3 linked regions of the Homo sapiens genome follow. The protein of the gene in region 1 purifies or fractionates together with the protein of each later gene. This does not show direct contact. Each region holds a gene or a part of one and is shown in the gene's direction. Other genes may lie near its edges.

What was found.
Region 2: the proteins of DNAJB2 (region 1) and RNF115 purify together in Homo sapiens (affinity purification with mass spectrometry; 3 studies listed by BioGRID and IntAct, with this or other methods). This does not show direct contact.
Region 3: the proteins of DNAJB2 (region 1) and GLB1 purify together in Homo sapiens (affinity purification with mass spectrometry; 4 studies listed by BioGRID and IntAct, with this or other methods). This does not show direct contact.

What each region holds. Positions count from the first base shown.
Region 1 is NC_000002.12:219,282,344-219,287,407, forward strand, and holds the end of DNAJB2 (dnaJ homolog subfamily B member 2), read left to right. Parts: intron 1-493; coding exon 494-586; intron 587-789; coding exon 790-892; intron 893-1,075; coding exon 1,076-1,146; intron 1,147-2,288; coding exon 2,289-2,644; 3' UTR 2,645-3,643; coding exon of another isoform or gene 3,644-3,654; 3' UTR 3,655-4,552; downstream 4,553-5,064. UniProt on the Homo sapiens protein: Functions as a co-chaperone, regulating the substrate binding and activating the ATPase activity of chaperones of the HSP70/heat shock protein 70 family. In parallel, also contributes to the ubiquitin-dependent proteasomal degradation of misfolded proteins.
Region 2 is NC_000001.11:145,738,349-145,744,110, reverse strand, and holds the end of RNF115 (E3 ubiquitin-protein ligase RNF115), read left to right. Parts: 3' UTR 1-5,243; downstream 5,244-5,762. UniProt on the Homo sapiens protein: E3 ubiquitin-protein ligase that catalyzes the 'Lys-48'- and/or 'Lys-63'-linked polyubiquitination of various substrates and thereby plays a role in a number of signaling pathways including autophagy, innate immunity, cell proliferation and cell death.
Region 3 is NC_000003.12:33,094,128-33,101,210, reverse strand, and holds the start of GLB1 (beta-galactosidase isoform a preproprotein), read left to right. Parts: upstream 1-4,064; 5' UTR 4,065-4,125; coding exon 4,126-4,200; exon of another isoform or gene 4,201-4,492; intron 4,493-6,907; exon of another isoform or gene 6,908-7,015; coding exon of another isoform or gene 7,016-7,083. Other genes in the region: TMPPE (transmembrane protein with metallophosphoesterase domain), read left to right, coding at 7,016-7,083.

The sequences.
Region 1 (5,064 bases):
CTTGTGACAATATTGTTATTATTACCTATAAAACAGATAGTGGTATTTTTTAATGATAGATATGTGCCAAATATTTTACATTTCGTAAGTCTCTAGTGAATCCTGACAGGTGGGCAATTTTCTCCCCATTTGCAGATGAGAAAACTGAGGCACAGTTAATAGCCCAGAGTCACATAACACATGGCAGAGCTGGACTCCTAGCTGTGTCTGCCTGTCATCGCGTCATGATGATTTGCCTGTACTGAAAGAGCCATCTGTCCTCCATCCCTCTTCCCCCTCCTTCCTTCCTTTATTCTTTATTGTGGACAGAATTAACCAGTGAGTGTTTTCGAATTCAACATTAAAAAGGAATTTATAAATAAGCCCAACTAAAAAGCGGAAAAGAAAAACCCTACCCAGTTGCTTAGTGGTTTATACTTCCAGACTTGGGCTCACACACTTTTGAGGGGAAATGTCATTACCAGATGACTGCTAATCTGTTTACTTGTTGCAGATGACCTGGGCCCCTTCTCAGAGCTTCAGAACCGGGGTTCCCGACACTCAGGCCCCTTCTTTACCTTCTCTTCCTCCTTCCCTGGGCACTCCGGTAAGTTCTGCCCCTTCCCACGTTTGCAAGCTCCGATTCCTGGAACCCCTGGCTTGAGCTTGTTGCTTTTCCAAGCCTGTCTCCTGTGTTGGGAGCCCTGCCTCCAGCAGCCCTGCGAGGCGGCCTGGAGCCTCGGTGACCACAACAGGCAGCGCAGTCTTCTTCTAACCACCTCTCCTCCTCCTCCCTTGTCCCGATGCCAGATTTCTCCTCCTCATCTTTCTCCTTCAGTCCTGGGGCTGGTGCTTTTCGCTCTGTTTCTACATCTACCACCTTTGTCCAAGGACGCCGCATCACCACACGCAGGTGAGAGCTCCTTCTGGGGCCATAGAGGGGTGAGAGGTCTGCTGGGGAGCTGTGTTCAAATAGAAAGTTGGCTCCTTGAGGGCAGGGCCCAGTCTGCGCTCTCTACTGCGGTGGCCAGAACTGGGACCAGCGCCTGCAGGATTCTGTCACTGCTCGTTGCCTGAACTGTGCTGTCTCCCACAGAATCATGGAGAACGGGCAGGAGCGGGTGGAAGTGGAGGAGGATGGGCAGCTGAAGTCAGTCACAATCAATGGTGAGGAGCAGCTCCCCTACCCAGCCCCTGGCAGGAAGCCCCAGCCCCAACCTCAGCAGCCTCCTCCCCAAACTGCTGCTCTCTGAACTCACTTAGGGCTTGGGAGGGAGTGGCAACAGGCCAGACTGGTAGGATCAGAGATGGCAATGTCGGGAAGGGGGTGAAGGAGTCTCACGAAGCCATCGCCGTCACTGTGAGTGGGGTGCCTTACATTTGCAAAGCACTTTACTATTTTTAAAGCACTTCCAGATATACGATATCCTCTGTATTCTTCAAGCATCTGGGGGAGTACACAGGGCAGATGGTATCCACTTAGTTTTAATTTGGGGAGCCTGAGCTGCAGCATAGTTAAATGACCCTAACTTCCAAGTAGCCCAGGCCCAAGACTCTTTCCTTCCAAGTAAGGAGTAGAGCCAGGAGTCAAACTCAGGACGCACGATTCCCGGAGCAGAACTGCCCCTGCAACACCATGCTGTGCAGGGCCGTCACCACAGCTAACCTTTCACGCCTGCTGACTCCCAGCACTGCGTACCAAGCCCTTTACATGGGCTGACATATTTAATCATTGGAACAATTTGAGTATGAAGGCACTATCATCATTCCCATTTTCTTTTTTTTCTTTTTTTGAAACAGGGTCGTGCTCAGCCCAGCACGATTATGGCTCACTACAGCCTCGACCTCCTCGGCTCAAGCAGTCCTCCCACTTCAGCCCCCTGTGTAGCTGGGACTACAGGCGTGTGCTACCATGCCCAGCTAATTTTTAAACTATTTTGTAGAGATGGGGTCTCACTATGTTGCCTAGGCTAGTCTCGAACTTCTAGGCTCAAGTGATCCTTCTACCTCGGCCTCCCAAAGTGTTGGGATTACAGGCATGAGCCACTGTGCCCGGCCATCATTCCCACTTTCTAGATGAGGAAAGGGAGGGGTAGGGATGTTGAGTGACTTGCCTAAGGGTAGGAGCTTCTACCTGGTAGAGCTGAATACTTCCTTGTGCTCAAAATCACAAGCCTAGGTGCCAAAATGCATGTGTGCCAATTCCAAATAAGAGACTCTAAGTGGTCAGGGTTGTTACTGTGTGAGGCAGCCTGGCAGTAATACCCCTGGCTCAGGTTGGGGCCTCATGGTGGCTGTGACTCTTGCAGGTGTCCCAGATGACCTGGCACTGGGCTTGGAGCTGAGCCGTCGCGAGCAGCAGCCGTCAGTCACTTCCAGGTCTGGGGGCACTCAGGTCCAGCAGACCCCTGCCTCATGCCCCTTGGACAGCGACCTCTCTGAGGATGAGGACCTGCAGCTGGCCATGGCCTACAGCCTGTCAGAGATGGAGGCAGCTGGGAAGAAACCCGCAGGTGGGCGGGAGGCACAGCACCGACGGCAGGGGCGGCCCAAGGCCCAGCACCAAGATCCAGGCTTGGGGGGGACCCAGGAGGGTGCGAGGGGTGAAGCAACCAAACGCAGTCCATCCCCAGAGGAGAAGGCCTCTCGCTGCCTCATCCTCTGAACACCGGGCCCAACCTGATCTGATCCAGATCTTGACTGGGGGGTCTGACTCACTGTGGGAAGAGAAGAGGGGAGTATCCTGAGTTGTAGGAACTGCTTTCCAACTCCAAGCTCCCTCCACAAGTTTCCCTCCCAGGCCCCCCACACCCCAGTGTGGACTTGGGATTTGCTGTGCTCAGCCCAGGGCTGATAGGTCCCTGGTGAAGCCCAGGGTGGGGGGTGTCAGGGCAGTGGAGGGGCCCGAGGAGCCAGGTTGCATTTATTGGATGGGGAGCTCCAAGGGGCATTAGTGGTTTGGGCTGGGCCTTTTGTGCCCTGGTACTCTGCCACCTGTGTTGCTGATGGTGTCAAGGAAGGAGGACTTGGCCTAGGGTTGTCTGAGCCGGAGCCGGCAGCTCCACTGGAGAGCAGTGCAGGCAGAGTGGAGCCTCCTGCTCTCCTGGACCAGCTGCAGACCCCCAACCCTGGTTTCTGTGCCATGTTGCGCTCTGACCGTCTCTGTTGCTTCTCTTCTGGTGTTGCTTCTCCTCCCTCCCATTCTCTCTGCAACTCCCTGCGGGCCGCATCGCTTGCTTTCACTGCCGTCTGGCTAGGACTCCCTTCTTCCTTCCTTCCCCGAGAAGGCCTCAATGTGGCGAGGAAGATGCTGGGGCCGGTAGGGCTGTGAGATCTTCTGGGGAGGCTAGCCGGGTGGGGCGGGAGCCTCTCAGCTGTCCAGATTCAGAACTGGAGCCCACTCCTCCTCCCTCTCGTTGCCTCAGCCTGCCCTCACCCTCAGGACTAGGCAGAGGTGAGGCTGGCTCACCCTGAAGAGGTGGGATAGGACCGGGGGACCCCAGAGGGAGGCCTAGGAGGGGACTGCACCCATACTGCTTCCCTACCACAAATCAGGGCTCAGGGAGAGGCCATGCGGCCAGCCCAGGTCTGCATGCTGAGCCCCATCCTCCACAGCTTGCCGCTGACGCTCTCTCCTGTCACCCCGCCCCTGCTCTCTCCCCAGATGTGTTCTGAGCTGGATGCCGGGTTCCAGAATCGCTGCACAGTTCCAACAGGACAGCGCCTTCCCCCATGCGCTGGGAGGGGACCCTCCATTTCTCCCCCTCACCCATGCTGAGTGTAGAGCCGGGGCCTGGGTGGCGGGTGGGGGCCGGGTGGGAGGTGGCAGTAGTCTTAGCCTGTGCACTCTCTTCCTTGGGTGTTTGGTGCTGGCTCCTGGGGACTACAAATCCCAGAGTGCGGTGTGCCCGGCCTCATTTCTGATAGATCCCGCTTGGGGGAGGTGGTGTATGGTTACGGAGCTGTGCATCTTGGGACATGTAGTAGCCCAGGTCGGCTTGTCACTCGCTGTGAGATGGGGAGATTTTGTCTTTTGATTTATCCCTGTAGGGCTGGCAGGGTTGTAGATGAAGGGGGAATGATCTGAGCCTTGGTTCCCCTGACACGTCTTGCTAGCCCCAGGGTTAGAGTGGGCAGGGCAGAGCCGCGCAGCACCTGGGAGCGGTACCTTTCCCTTGGGCAGCCTGGGGTCCCAGGAACAAGCCAGGGCGAGTGGCATGTCTGCCTGAGCAGGGTGTGGCCCCAGAAAGCTGAGGAGTGTGGGCTGGCAGAGAGCTTCGAGGGCAAGGCCACCCGCGGGGGCGTGTGTGTGGTGGGGCTTGGCATGTGATGGCAGCTCCAGGCATGCCGCTGCTTGTATGGCTTTCTTTGGCCTCTGACCCTGCTGCCCATTCTTTCCAACATCACAGATGAACTGCCTCTCCTCCTCCCTGCCTGGGGAGCCCAGTGGCCAGGGAGGGGAGTGGTGGAGCCAGTCGCTGTAACACTGAGCCTCAGAGACGAACCAAAACCAGCTGGGCTGAGCTCAGATCCAGGGGGAAATGCTGGAAGTCAATAAAACTGAGTTTTGAGAGCTTGGTGGTGTGTTGTGTTCTTGGGTTCCTACTTTCCGGGGTGGCCCAGGAGGGCCTCTAAGGGACAGTGGGTGACACCTCAGGCCTCACACCTCCCTTTATGCCCCTACAGCTAGAGGTGCAGGCCTTGCCAGTTGAAGGCAGAAATGCCCTCTTTGACCAGGCTGCCCTCCCCAGGTATGTTATGGAACCCCAAGCAATGCTTCATTCTTTGCTTTCACCTCTTGGGGGCCTACAACTGGCTTTCCCTAGCAGCCGATGTTCCCCTTATGAGTGGCCTCACCCCCTAGTACTCCACAGCACAGCTAGGACCATACTCAAGTTAAGACTTAACTGAGGCTGGGCGCGGTGGCTCACGCCTATAATCTTAGCACTTTGGGAGGCTGAGGCGGGCAGATCACTTGAGGCCAGAAGTTTGAGACCAGCCTGGCCAACGTGGCAAAACCCCATCTCTACTTAAAAAAATACCAAAAAAAAAACCCCCCAAAAAACAACAAAAACACAAAAAGCT
Region 2 (5,762 bases), on another chromosome or scaffold:
AGAACTAGAAAGGATCTGAGTACCTTTAAAAAGGGTGGAAACAAAGTACTGGATAGGGGTCTGCCTTTTTATACACAGTATAGCAAACAGCATCAGACAAAGTTACATGAAGTTTTCTTCACTTTTTTTGCTCTGGTGGATAGAGGATGTGAGACTCATTTTACTGTTTCCCAGACCTGTCCCACTTAATGGATCTGTTGTGTTTCTTCTTATAATGGCAGGCACCTCAGATGTCCAGGTTAATTTATGTTGAGGAGTTAGGATTCTTCAGGGATTTATTATTATTATTATTATTATTTATTTATTTATTTATTTATTTATTTATTTTTTGAGATGGAGGCTTGCTCTGTCGCCTAGGCTGGAGTGCAGTGGTGCAATCTCAGCTCACTGCAACCTCCACCTCCTGGGTTCCAGCGATTCTTCTGCCTTAGCCTCCCAAGCAGCTGGGATTACAGGCACCTGCCACCATGCCCAGCTAATTTTTTATATGTTTAGTAGAGACAAGGTTTTACCTTGTTGGCCAGGCTGGTCTTGAACTCTAGACCTCAGGTGATCTGCCAGTCGTGGCCTCCCAAAGTGCTGGGATTACAGACGGGAGCCACCATGCCCAGCCTGAGATTTATTATAAGGAATTGGTTCACACAATAATGGAGTTTGAGAAATCCCAAGATCTGCAGTGGGCCAGCTAGAGATCCAGGAGAGCTGATGGTGTAGTTCCAGTCTGAAGGCCAGCTTGGATACCCTAGAAGAGCTGATGTTTCTGTTCCAGTTCAGAGGCAGGAAAAGACTGAGGTCTTAGTTCAAGCAGTCAGGCAGGAGGACTTCTCCCTTACTTGTTCTATTCAGACCTTCAACTGATTGGATGAGGGCCACTTACATTAGGGAGGGCCATGTGCTGTATTCAGTCTACTGACTGAAATGTTAGTCTCTTCCAAAAACACCTTCACAGACACACCCAGAATACTGTATGACCAAATATCTGGGCATCATGTGGCCTAGTCAAGTTGACACATAAGATTAACCATCACAATGAGGAAAAACAGAAATGATACATGTATACAGAGTGCTCCTCATCCCAATTAAGTTTCACCAAGTTAATAATGTGTCTCTATGAGAAGTGGTTCACCATGTTGGTCAGGCTGTTTTCAAACTCCTGACCTCAAGTGACCACCCGCCTCGGCCTCCCAAAGTGCTGGGATTACAGGTGTGAGCTAGCACTCCCAGCCGACAGGTGCTTCTTAAATGTTTTCTTTGAGCAGGAATTGGTCCAGGAATTGGTTCTCAAGTTAGAAGGAAAATTTGAGGGGAAGAACTTGTTTTTTCTCCAATCAGTCTCTGATTAAATAGTTATTAGGAAAAACTCCTTGCTTATGTCTTTGTATTGCACATTTTTATATATGTATATATGTGTAAATAGAGATATTTATATATTCACAGACAAACACGTGTATGCACATTTCACAATGGAGGAAGAAGGGATATGGTGTGCACTGAGGTAAAGTGAGCAGGGATACAGAAGAGAGCTGGAGCCTCACAGTCTGATTCTCTCATTGTACATAACCTTTAGGGTCTTTGTTTCCCTGAGTTCTCTGGTATGGGGCACTGTTGGCTTGGGCTGGTACCCTGTTATTCTCTGTGATGAAGGGATTCACTGGAGGTAAAAACGTAATCATTTCCAAAGGTTGAGAATAAATGACTTTGAGGAAAGGGTGTTCATTATCCGTTGCTTCTATATTATAATCAGTTGAACTACAATACGGTTATCTATTGATTTTTTTTAATTTTTCTGACAAATTATTGACACCAAATTGAATAATTCATGACCTGCATGCTTCAGCTTCTTTCTCCCTGGTTTCCAGGTGCTATTCCCTCAAGAAATGCAAATTAAATATGTCGGTCTTAATAAATCAGGAGGGAAGCATAGTCTGTGTCTGTTTTAAATGACAACAACAACAAAACAGCTTTGGGGTTTAAGAAGTGGAAGACACATTTTTATTTTTTTGAGACACAATCTCACTCTTTCGCCCAGGCTGGAGTGCAGTGGCGTGATCTCAGGTCACTGCAACCTCCCGCTCCTGGGTTCAAGCGATTCTCTTGCCTCAGCCTCCCAAGTAGCTGGGATTACAGGCACGTGCCACCATGCCCAGCTAATTTTTGTATTTTTAGTAGAGATGGGGTTTTGCCATGTTGCCCAGGCTGGTCTCGAACTCCTGATGTCAAGTGATCACCGACCTCAGCATCCCAAAGTGCTGGGATTACAGGCATTAGCCACCACGCCCAGGTGAGAAGACAGATTTTAAGAGAAGGAGCAGGGCTGGTATCTGAATAGGTATTTGGATGTTAGGGGAAAACCCTTTTTGGCCTCTGTGGTAGAGCGATCGGAAGGTAAAAGTGCTGTTTACAAGAATAATCCATTGGAGATCTGGGGATTGGGGACGACTTATAGGATAGAGTCCTCTTGTTGAGAATTTCCCGAATGAATCTCATGTAGGTTCTGTCACAGTAAGATGGAGGAAAACTTTGATGGGGTAAGTATCACAAGTGGCTGTCCTATAGGGGGAAATCCTAGCCTGCAGTAATGTCAGTGTCTCAGTATTCAGCCAGCGAGCCACTGAGCTGCTCCAGGGGTTTAAAATAGAATGCATAGAATACAATGTATACAGCTGGTGATGCTTTCCAGGATCAAAATAGAGCCCTTGTCTGATCCCATTGACATTGTAAGGTTTCGATCTCTCATACCTGCCACAGACAAGTACATTGTAGGCATTCAACTTTTAAGGTTTTATACATGCAAACTTTATGTTTTCCTGCCACACTACACTTGGTGTCCACAGAAGTGTAGTTTGTATGTTGCCTCTTCTTCCTCTTTCAACCAGAACACTTAGATCTGTGATCATAGGATGTAAGCCTGTGATTCTTTACTTTTTCTAATAAGAAATACAATTTTCAAGATCCAAAAATTATTAGATTCTTGGCTGGGCATTGTGGCTCATGCCTGTAATCTCAGCATTTTGGAAGGCTGAGGCAGGCAGATCACTTGAGGTCAGGAGTTTGAGACCAGCCTGGGCAGCACAATAAAACACCATGTCTACTAAAAATACAAAAATTAGCCAGGTGTGGTGGCATGCACCTGTAGTCCCAGCTACTTGGGAGGCTGAGGAGGGAGAATCGTTTGAACCAAGGAGGCAGAGGTTGTAGTGAGCCAAGATTGTGCCACTGCACTCCAGGGCAACAGAGAGAGACCCTGTCTCAAAACAAAAACCCCCAAATTATTAGATTCCCTTCCAACAACTTGATAGCCATATTATTAGTATTTTTGATTAAAGAATACATAACAAAAAGCTGCTATGATTTCAGTAATGCTTTTAAGTTAATTTATTAGTCACACCAGAATCTACATCCAATTGAAATATATACAAATATTTGAAAGATATTTATTCAGGCTGAAGATTATGGTATATAGATTCCTTCTGATAACCTCATGGCCTCACAGGTTCAAAACCCGTGTTTGTGAATCACTCATACAGATTGGGGCTAAGATGCGTGTCCAGAAAACCACCTATTATGCATGAAAATTTGTAGGCTTATTTGAAGGCAATTGTATCAACACATTTTGAAAGCCAAGACACAAGTATTTTAAGTTTCTGTTTAACCAAGTCTCGAGATAAGCAGAGTAAATAAACTCTTTAGAAGCAAGACTCAGTTGGTATGTACAAAGTGGGATTGCTTTGTATATATTCCGCTTAGTTTGAGTCAGAGCTAGTAATCTGATGCTCTTAAATGTCTTCATAAACTTGGGCAGTGATGTTTCCTTTCTGTGATTATGTGTCACAGATTTTTATATGTGGACTATAATTAGTATAGTACAATGGCTGAAACTTTTCCTATAGTTGGATATATCTTCTGAGACTTCCAGTGATTGTATAATGTTGAGTAGCTCCAGAAGATTATTTGAATAGTAAAAACAAAAGACATCTCTACCTATGTGAGTTTATTATTTAGTTAGAAACACAGAACTAACTATTTAAAACAGGTAGAGAAAGATTAAGATGAATGTGATGTAGTGGAGAAAGCTTTGGAGACTTTGGAGTCAGAACTCAAATGGCTCTAGGTCCCAAATCCAGACTCTCATTTTGATTCTCAGAACAATTCTGTGGAAAGAGAAGATACAATAGGCAATATCCCTTTTTACAGATAGGTAAACAGAAATAGCATCTCAAAACCTCATTTGCACTGGGTGAGGTGGCTCACGCCTGTAATCCCAGCACTTTGGGAGGCTGAGGCGGGTGGATCACTTGAGGTCAGGAGTTTGAGACCAGCCTGGCCAACATGGTGAAACCCCGTCTCTACCAAAAACACAAAAATTAGCCAGGCATGGTGGTGCATGCCTGTAATCCCAGCTACTTGGGAGACTGAGGCAGGAGAATTGCTTGAACCCGGGAGGTGGAGGTTGCAGTGAGCTGAGATCATGCCACTGCACTCCAGCCTGGGCAACAGAGTGAGACTCCGTCTCAAAAAAAAAAAAAAAAAATTCATTTGCCCAATGACAAATAGCTGGTATGTTGCAGAGCCAGAATTTGAATCCAGGTCTTTTTGCCTCCATGGCTAGTCCTTTTATCTCCATGGGATACAGTCTAAAATCCTTAGTTTGAGGTTCAAGACTATCACTAATAAGAGTCTTACTCATCTACTTCAGCCATATCTCTTTCCGTTCCCACAAACCTTAGCTCCCACATTTGGCAGGTCCTTGCCAAGGAGCACAGGTAAAGTGTCTCTTTCCTTTTAATGGCTCACCATGGAGCTGTAGCTAAATTTCTGTGCTCTTACCCCTTTATTCATGTAGTTCCTCCTATCAGGAATATCCTGCCCACTCTCTGCTTAACTATGACAAGAGGTCATCTGTCCAAAGAGAAAGAAGAGAGTTTGTGGATTTAGGAGAAAAGAAAAGACTCCAAATACTGCTATGGGCATTTATTTAAAAAGAGAAATGACCAAAGAGGTTAACAAGTATTTAGATGAAGCTGGGCAGTTGTAGTCTGTGGTGCTCTTGGTCTGCACAAATCTTCCTCTTCCTCCAGCAGTGCTGTATGGATGTTGTTGAATGTTGAGGTCTGTCTGCATTTTCTCATTTTCATGCCAAGTCAATCACTGGATCTGGCTGTCTTCCTTTCTGTCCTACCTATCTTTGCTTGTTTTCTCTCTCTTTCCTTTGCAGTGTTAAATAAAAATTTATTCCCCCAAAATTTGGTGTTCTCATTTTGTTTGACTTATTTTACTATGTTGATGAAGAGGGAGGAAAAGTTTTTCTGGGGTACAAAAACGCATATATTTATCCGATATTTGAGGACTATACTACCCACTTTGGTGAAAGCTGTTCTGTTTATTTACTGGAGCTTAGGAGGGAAGAAGGCAAGTTTGCCCTGATGGTGAGGAGCAAAGTCAAGGATTACACTGATTTGCCCCAGCTTATATTTCCACAGATTCTTGGTATATTTAGCATCTCTTCCCCTGTGCCCTGTTGCATTCTTCTCTGTGCCTATTGTAATGAGAAAGATACTAAGCCATAGTCAGACTCATCTTGCTGTAGCTGTTTTAAAAGTTTCTTTTGGCACAAGGCTTACAAAGCTGTGGAAAGAAAGTTTGTATTACTGCCTTATAACTTAGAATAGCAACAAAATACCTGATATAATGAAGTCTCACCTGTCCTGAGATGCGTGCGTGATAGGCCCTCATGACTGTAAAGGGATTGGAAAAGGAAAGTG
Region 3 (7,083 bases), on another chromosome or scaffold:
ACAAAAACTACTAGAGGCCAGGCGTGGTGGCTCACGCCTGTAATCCCAGCACTTTGGGAGGCCGAGGCAGGTGGATCACCTGAGGTCAGGAGTTTGAGACCAGCCTGACCAACATGGAGAAACCCCATCTCTACTGAAAATATAAAAGTAGCGGGGCATGGTGGCACATGCCTGTAATCCCAGCTACTCAGGAGGCTGAGGCAGGAGAATCGCTTGAATCCAGGAGGCAGAGGTTGCAGTGAGCCAAGATCGTGCCATTGCACTCCAGCCTGGGCAATAAAAGCGAAACTCTGTCTAAAAAAATAAAAATAAAACATTACTAGAACAATGAAATAAAAATAGATGCGTAATGATTTTGTTCATTATTAGATTCAACAGATAGACTTACTTTCTCAAATTGCTGCAAGTTTCTAAGTGCCTAGGCTGAATTTCTGTACTTATTGCACAGCACTGGTCTAAGGATCAGACTCTGAGAAGTATTAGTCTATATTAGAGCATGTACCATGTTTAGAGATGAGTGCCTGCAGGGTGACAGCCTTCTCATGGTCCCTTCATATTCTCCAGTATGCAGGGGGCTTTGCATCCAGCACACTCTGTCTGTGCATTTAAATGGGAACCAAACAGTACACTATGAGCAGAAGCATAGCCTTGTGAAAATAACTCAGGCCCTAACGTCAGGCAATGTAACTTTAGAGACTCTACTGCTCCCCAGCTCTGTGGCTACTGGCAAGTCATTTAACTCCTCTGGGTCTCAGCTTTCTCATCTGTGAAATGTGGATAAGAGCATGCAGCTCGGATTGGGAGGAATAGTGACACATACTGGTAAAGCATTCAGCACAACAATGGCTATTACTACTATTGCCATTTCAACTACAAACATAGTCAAATACTAAAAATCTCAGAAACAATCTACAATCTATATTCCTTTGGCAAGCTTATACTGTAAAGGGCTAGAACATAAATATATTCAGTTTTGTAGGTCCTAAGATCTGTGTTGCAACTACTCCATTCTACCGTTGTAGCGTGAAAGCAACCATATGCAATATGCAGAGGATTATAGGTGGCTGTGTTCTAAGAAAACTATTTATGTGTAATCTTGGCACTTTGGCAGCCAAAGTGGGCAGATTACTTGAGGCCAGGAGTTCAAGACCAACCCTGGCAACAAGGCAAGATCTTGTCTTTAGAAAAAAAAAAATTATTCAGGCATGGTGGCACTCGCCTGTAGTCCCAGCTACTTAGCTACTCAGGAGGCCGACATGGGACGACTGCTTCAGCTCAGGAGTTCAAGGCTGCTGTGAGCTATGATTGCACCACTGCACTCCAGCCTGGGTGACAGAGCAAGACTGTGTCTAAAAAAACAAAACAAAACAAAAAAAACAAAAACCAACCCCACAAAACTTTATTTATGGACACTGACACAGGAAACTTACAACATTTTCAAATGTCATAAAATATTATTCTTTTGATTTTTTTTCATTCATTTAAAAATGTAAAAACCATTTTTAGGTGGCAGGCCATAGAAAAACTGGCAGCAAATTGTGCCGATTCTTAGTAAAAAGAATTTTAAAAAGAAAAAGAAAAACAGGCAGCAGGCCAGATTTGATCCTCTGCCCTTAGTTTGCCAACTCCTGCTCTAAACCCTTTCTACCTCAGTTCAGTTAAAAATACCTATTGCATATGATAACCCTGAGTGTACAGAGTAGGAAAGAAGGTAGAAGAAGTTGAATCTGCCATGTGTTAAGGATTTTTGTTTTGTTTTGTTTTTAAACTTCGTTCTGCAATAATTTCAGGCTTAGAAACAAAAAGTTGAAAAAAAGAGTAAAAATAATTCCTTCATTGATTTTCCAAATGTTAACATTTTACCACATTTGCTTTTCTTTCTCACGTTCTTTTCATGCCTGGAATACCATTTCTCTCCCTCTCTCTCTCTCTCTTTCTCTCTCTCTCCATTTTTTTTTGTGAACTGTTTGAGAATCAGTTGCAAAGATGATGCCCTTTTGTTTCCTAAAAAACAAGGATGTTCTTTTATATAACCATTACCAAAATTACCATTACCGTTACCCAAATCAATACACTAATACAAAACTATTATTTAATATTTAGACCGTGTACCATTATCAAAATCAGAAAGTTAACATTGATGCGGCCGGGCACAGTGGCTCATGCCTGTAATCCCAGCACTTTGGGAGGCCGAGGTGGGCAAATCACTTGAGGTCAAGAGCTCCAGACCAGCCTGGCTAACATGGTGATACCCCATCTCTACTAAAAATACAAAAATTAGCCAAGCCTAGTGGTGGGTGCCTGTAATCCCAGCTACTTTGGAGGCTGAGGTGGGAGAATCACTTGAACCTGGGAGGCGGAGGTTGCAGTGAGCCGAGATTGTGCCACTGCACTCCAGCCTGGGTGACAGAGTGAGACTCTGTCCCCCCACCCCCCCAAAAAGGAAATTAACATTGATGCATGGTACTAATCTAACCTACAAGTCTAATTCTGATTTCATCAACTGTCCCACTAACATCCTGTATATACCAAGCTTCTTATCGTCATCATCTCTGGTAATTTCCCCAATTATCCAGTGAATTTGATATTATTAGCCCTGCTTTACCAACAAAGAAACTAAGCTCAGAGAGGTTAAGTAATTTGCCCACAGTTACACAGACAGTAAGTGGCAGAGCTGGAATTCCAACTCAAGTGTACTTCCTCCAGAGCCCTTGTTCTTTAATACTGAACTAGAATTGCAGAGCTTGGAAAGGACTTCACAGTGCAAGGACACGGAATTGGTACTACAGGCATGAAAAGAAGCCAGGCACGGTGGCTCATGTCTGTAATTCCAGCATTTTGGGAGTTCCAGGCAGGTAGATTGCTTGATCCCAGAACTTCAAGACCTGCCTGGGAAACGTGGTGAGACCCTGTCTCTACAAAAAATACAAAAATTAGCCGGGTGTGGTGGCGCACGCCTGTAGTCCCAGCCACTTGGTAGGCTGAGACGGGAGAATTGCTTGAGCCCAGGAGGCCAAAGCTGCAGTAAGCCGTGATTGCGCCCCACTCCAGCCTGGGTGACAGAGTGAGACCCTGTCTCAAAAAACACAAAAACAAAACAAAAAAACAACCCCCCAAACCAAAAAACAAAAACCTAAGAAAAGCCAGTAACTGATACTTTCTCAATCTCTCAATGAAATGTCCTTTCTGATACTTTCTCAATCTCTCAAGGACATGTCCGGTAGGAAAGGAGAAAGGAGTGAACAAATAGAATTTTGGCTACTTTGTTATACAATGTAAAAAGGCTTTTTGGAACACCAAGGCATAAACTAAGGTTATTTTAAAAAAGAAAATTTTTTTTTGATACGGAATTTCGCTCTTATTGCCCAGGCTGGAGCGCAATGGCTCGATCTCGGTTTACTGCAACCTCCACCTCCCGGGTTCAAGCGATTCTCCTGTCTCAGCCTCCTCAGTAGCTGGGATTACAGGCGCCTGCCACCACGCCCGGCTAATTTTTGTATTTTTAGTAGAGACGGGGTTTCATCATACTGGTCAGGCTGGTCTGGAACTCCTGACCTCAGGCGATCCGCCCGCCTCGGCCTCCCAAAGTGCTGGGATTACAGGCGTGAGCAGGATTTTCATTCTAACAAGTTCCAGGTGAGTTGATACAGTGGCTCCAGGGACCGACCACATTTTGCTAACCCCCGGCTTAGAGTTATTCAAAGAGCCCGTATATGAGACGCGGATTCCATCTAGGGCGTTTAGGTTTAATGATTAACAATTTCCCTCTTCTGCTCTCTCAAGGCAGCCAGGGAACAGGGAGACCATGATTCATGTCCAATCCCCGAGGCGCGTTATCAAGCTGCTGAAAGCAGGCCCTCCGGACTGCAGTTCCAAAGGGTCCCTTCCCAGGGAAGACGCCTGCAAAACCCAGATAGTACTATCCTGGAGTCACGCGGCGGCGCGCAGCCTCCTAGCCGCCCCCACCCGCCCGGCTCGGCCACAGCGGGGCGGGGCGCGGGGCTGAGCAGGCGCGAGGGCTGGCTGCTGGGCCGACGAGGGGCGGTGCCAGGCCGTGGGTCCTTAGTCAAGTGACGCGAAGCGGCCGGCCTGGGCGCCGACTGCAGAGCCGGGAGGCTGGTGGTCATGCCGGGGTTCCTGGTTCGCATCCTCCCTCTGTTGCTGGTTCTGCTGCTTCTGGGCCCTACGCGCGGCTTGCGCGTAAGTCTGCGGGACCCGGGTACGGGGAGGCATTGCTAGGGGACAGGCTGGCGGGGAACCGGGCTGGGGTCGCAGCCACCCGCGGTCCCGCAGGGCGGGGAGCCTGAGCCCCGAAGTGCCCCCCAGCAGGCTCGCGGCCGGCGGAACGCAGGCAGTGGACCGGCCTTCCCGTCGGGGGCGGGCCGGGCGGGGCGCGCGTCCTTCCAGGCAGCTCGGTCGCTTGTGCGTTCCGCTCCGGCCGCCCTTTGCGCTTGGATCCACTTCCCCATCTGTAACGAGGTGTTGAGACGAGGTGCGTGTAAACATTTCCTAAGTTGGCTTTCCGGGAGGGGATTCCAAGTTGCGCGGGTTAGAGGGTGCCTCCGGCTCTGGTTTGGGGCGCCCTCGCTTTCCCAGTTGGTGCTCTGCGGAGCGCTCCGGAAGGAGAAAAATGGGGTCAGGAGAGGCCCTTGCAGTGGGAACATTGGGTTATTTCCCCTCTGGGTGCTCTCCCTCTTCGTGCATCTTGTTCCTTTCTCACCACTCCCCGTCGCCTGCCCTTTGGCTTGGGTTTTTCTTTGTATTTGTGGGACCGTTTTCCTTCGGCGTTTGGGGGTCCAGGTTGAGGGGGGGAATAGGCAGGCTGCCGGGGGATGCCATCGTTGATCGGGGCAGGGCTGGCGAGGCGAATAGGTGAGGTGCGGGGCGTGCACAGTTGGTGGGAGAGGAAGGACAGCTTCACTCGCTGCGTCCGAGCTGAGGCGACTGGCTGAGGGGCTCCAAAGCGCTGCCTGGGGAGGTTTGCATCACACCTGCGGAAAGGAGAGTGGGTAGTTGCAAGCTGCTCCTCTGCACGTTCCGCGGACCAACTTTGGTTCCTCCAGGGTGTAGGTGGGCTGAGCCTGCAGTATGCTTTAAGTAAGAGCTGGTAGCATTTGACACCGTTGACTTGTAAGTTACACCCTTTAATAACGCTTTCAATAACGTGCCTAGGGCAGAGAAAAGTGGTACATTTATCTACAACCAAGATTGAACATCTTAAGTATTTGGAAAACAGCTGCTGAAAATGTTTTCATTTTGGGAAAAAGTCAGCACAGATTATTTGCTGCTCCCTCTTCACCCCGTCTGTGGTTCCCCTACCCCAGTATGTAGACAGAGTTTTCTTGTCCAGAAGGCCCGTAGGACCTTAGGAGTCAGAGCTAGCCAGCTGTGAGAACCACTGGGGAAGGTGGAACTGGGGCACAGTTCAGGAGAACAGTGGCAGGGTAAGGGGCTAGGGGAAAGGCAGATCTTAACCAGTATCTGGGAGTGGGGGTAGGGAGAGAGAGAAGGATTTATGAACCAGGAACAGGTGGACAGGGTCAATCTGTCTGATGTGAGCTCATCAGTCTTGTGCAGCGTCATTGGGTCAGGGTGGATGCCCTGTGGCTGCCATACCTGAGGCCCACACAGGGAGGCTGGCATCACCCCAGGAATTCTCATTTCAGGTGCCTAGGTGTCCCTCTTGGGCTTCTGTGCCCACAGCTAAAGAAAGATACCAGCAGTCTAGCTTTCCATTATCTCCTTGTTTACATTTCTTTAGGGTTCACGCCATTCTCCTGCCTCAGCCTCCCGAGTAGCTGGGACTACAGGCGCCCGCCATCACACCCGACTAATTTTTTTCTTTTTTTGTATTTTTAGTAGAGACGGGGTTTCACCATGTTAGCCAGGATGGTCTCGATCTCCTGACCTCGTGACCCAGCGGTTCTCAAATTTTAACTAAATTTTAGCTGTCCTAGAAATTAAGAGAATATTCCTTTTTTTTTTTTTTTTTTTTTTTTTGAGACAGAGTCTCGCTCTTTTGCCCAGGCTGGAGTGCAGTGGCACGATCTTGGCTCACTACAACTTCCACCTCCCAGGTTCAAGTGATTCTCCTGCCTCAGCCTCCCGAGTAGCTGGGATTACATGCATCCACCACCATGCCTGGCTAATTTTTGAATTTTTAGTAGAGACAGGGTTTTACCATGTTGGCCAGGCTGGTCTTGAACTCCTGACCTCAGGTAATCTGCCTGCCTCGGCCTCCCAAAGTGCTGGAATTATAGGCGTCAGCCACTGTGCCCAGCCCTAGAGAATATTTTAAACTATTTGTTAAGAAATACTACATCATTACACGTTAATAAACAATATATATATTTGAAAAACAATAGTATTTCTCCCCAAATTTTAGGGTGAAGAGTTGCACTGTTTTACATTTCTGCAAATCTCTTTCAATGTCTCTTAATAGAAGACAGTCAAATTTTCATGTTTATTTCTGCATTAAATCTGTTGCCATATCACATGTCACATAGCCTCTGGAAGACTCCACCCCCTCAGGACAGAGTGAGAATGGAAAAGGCAGTAATGGCTTGGAATTATAATAAAAATAGTTTTGACTAATTGGACCCCTGAAGGGCTCTCTCCAGACCACACTTTGAATACCGCTGATTTGGAATGTTTTTATAAAACAAGTACATGCTTACTGTAGAGAAACTTTAAACGTATAGAACATGTGGTAAGAAAATGAAAACTGCCCATCATGTCACAATGCTGTGAGTTTCTTTTTGAATAATAAAGTATAGCTAGCAACTGACTGGTATTTGAGTAGCTTGGATTCAAGGTGGGTTGGGCAGATGTAAGTGGCCTTTGAGTTTTGAATGGGTACAAGGACACTCTAATATCCCACAAAGCTGATGCTGGTTCCTGGTTGCAGGCGGAGTTGACCTGGAAACCTCTCCTTGGCCACTGTCCTTTCTAAGGAACTCATTTCCAGAGTCCACCAGCACAGAACTGGTGGGGGAGCCTACTAGGAGCAGAGAAAATGGCCATCTTCAGGCAGCTGTCCCTAGGCGCGAAGGCCACCCTGGCTGCTGTCACTGTCTTCGTGTC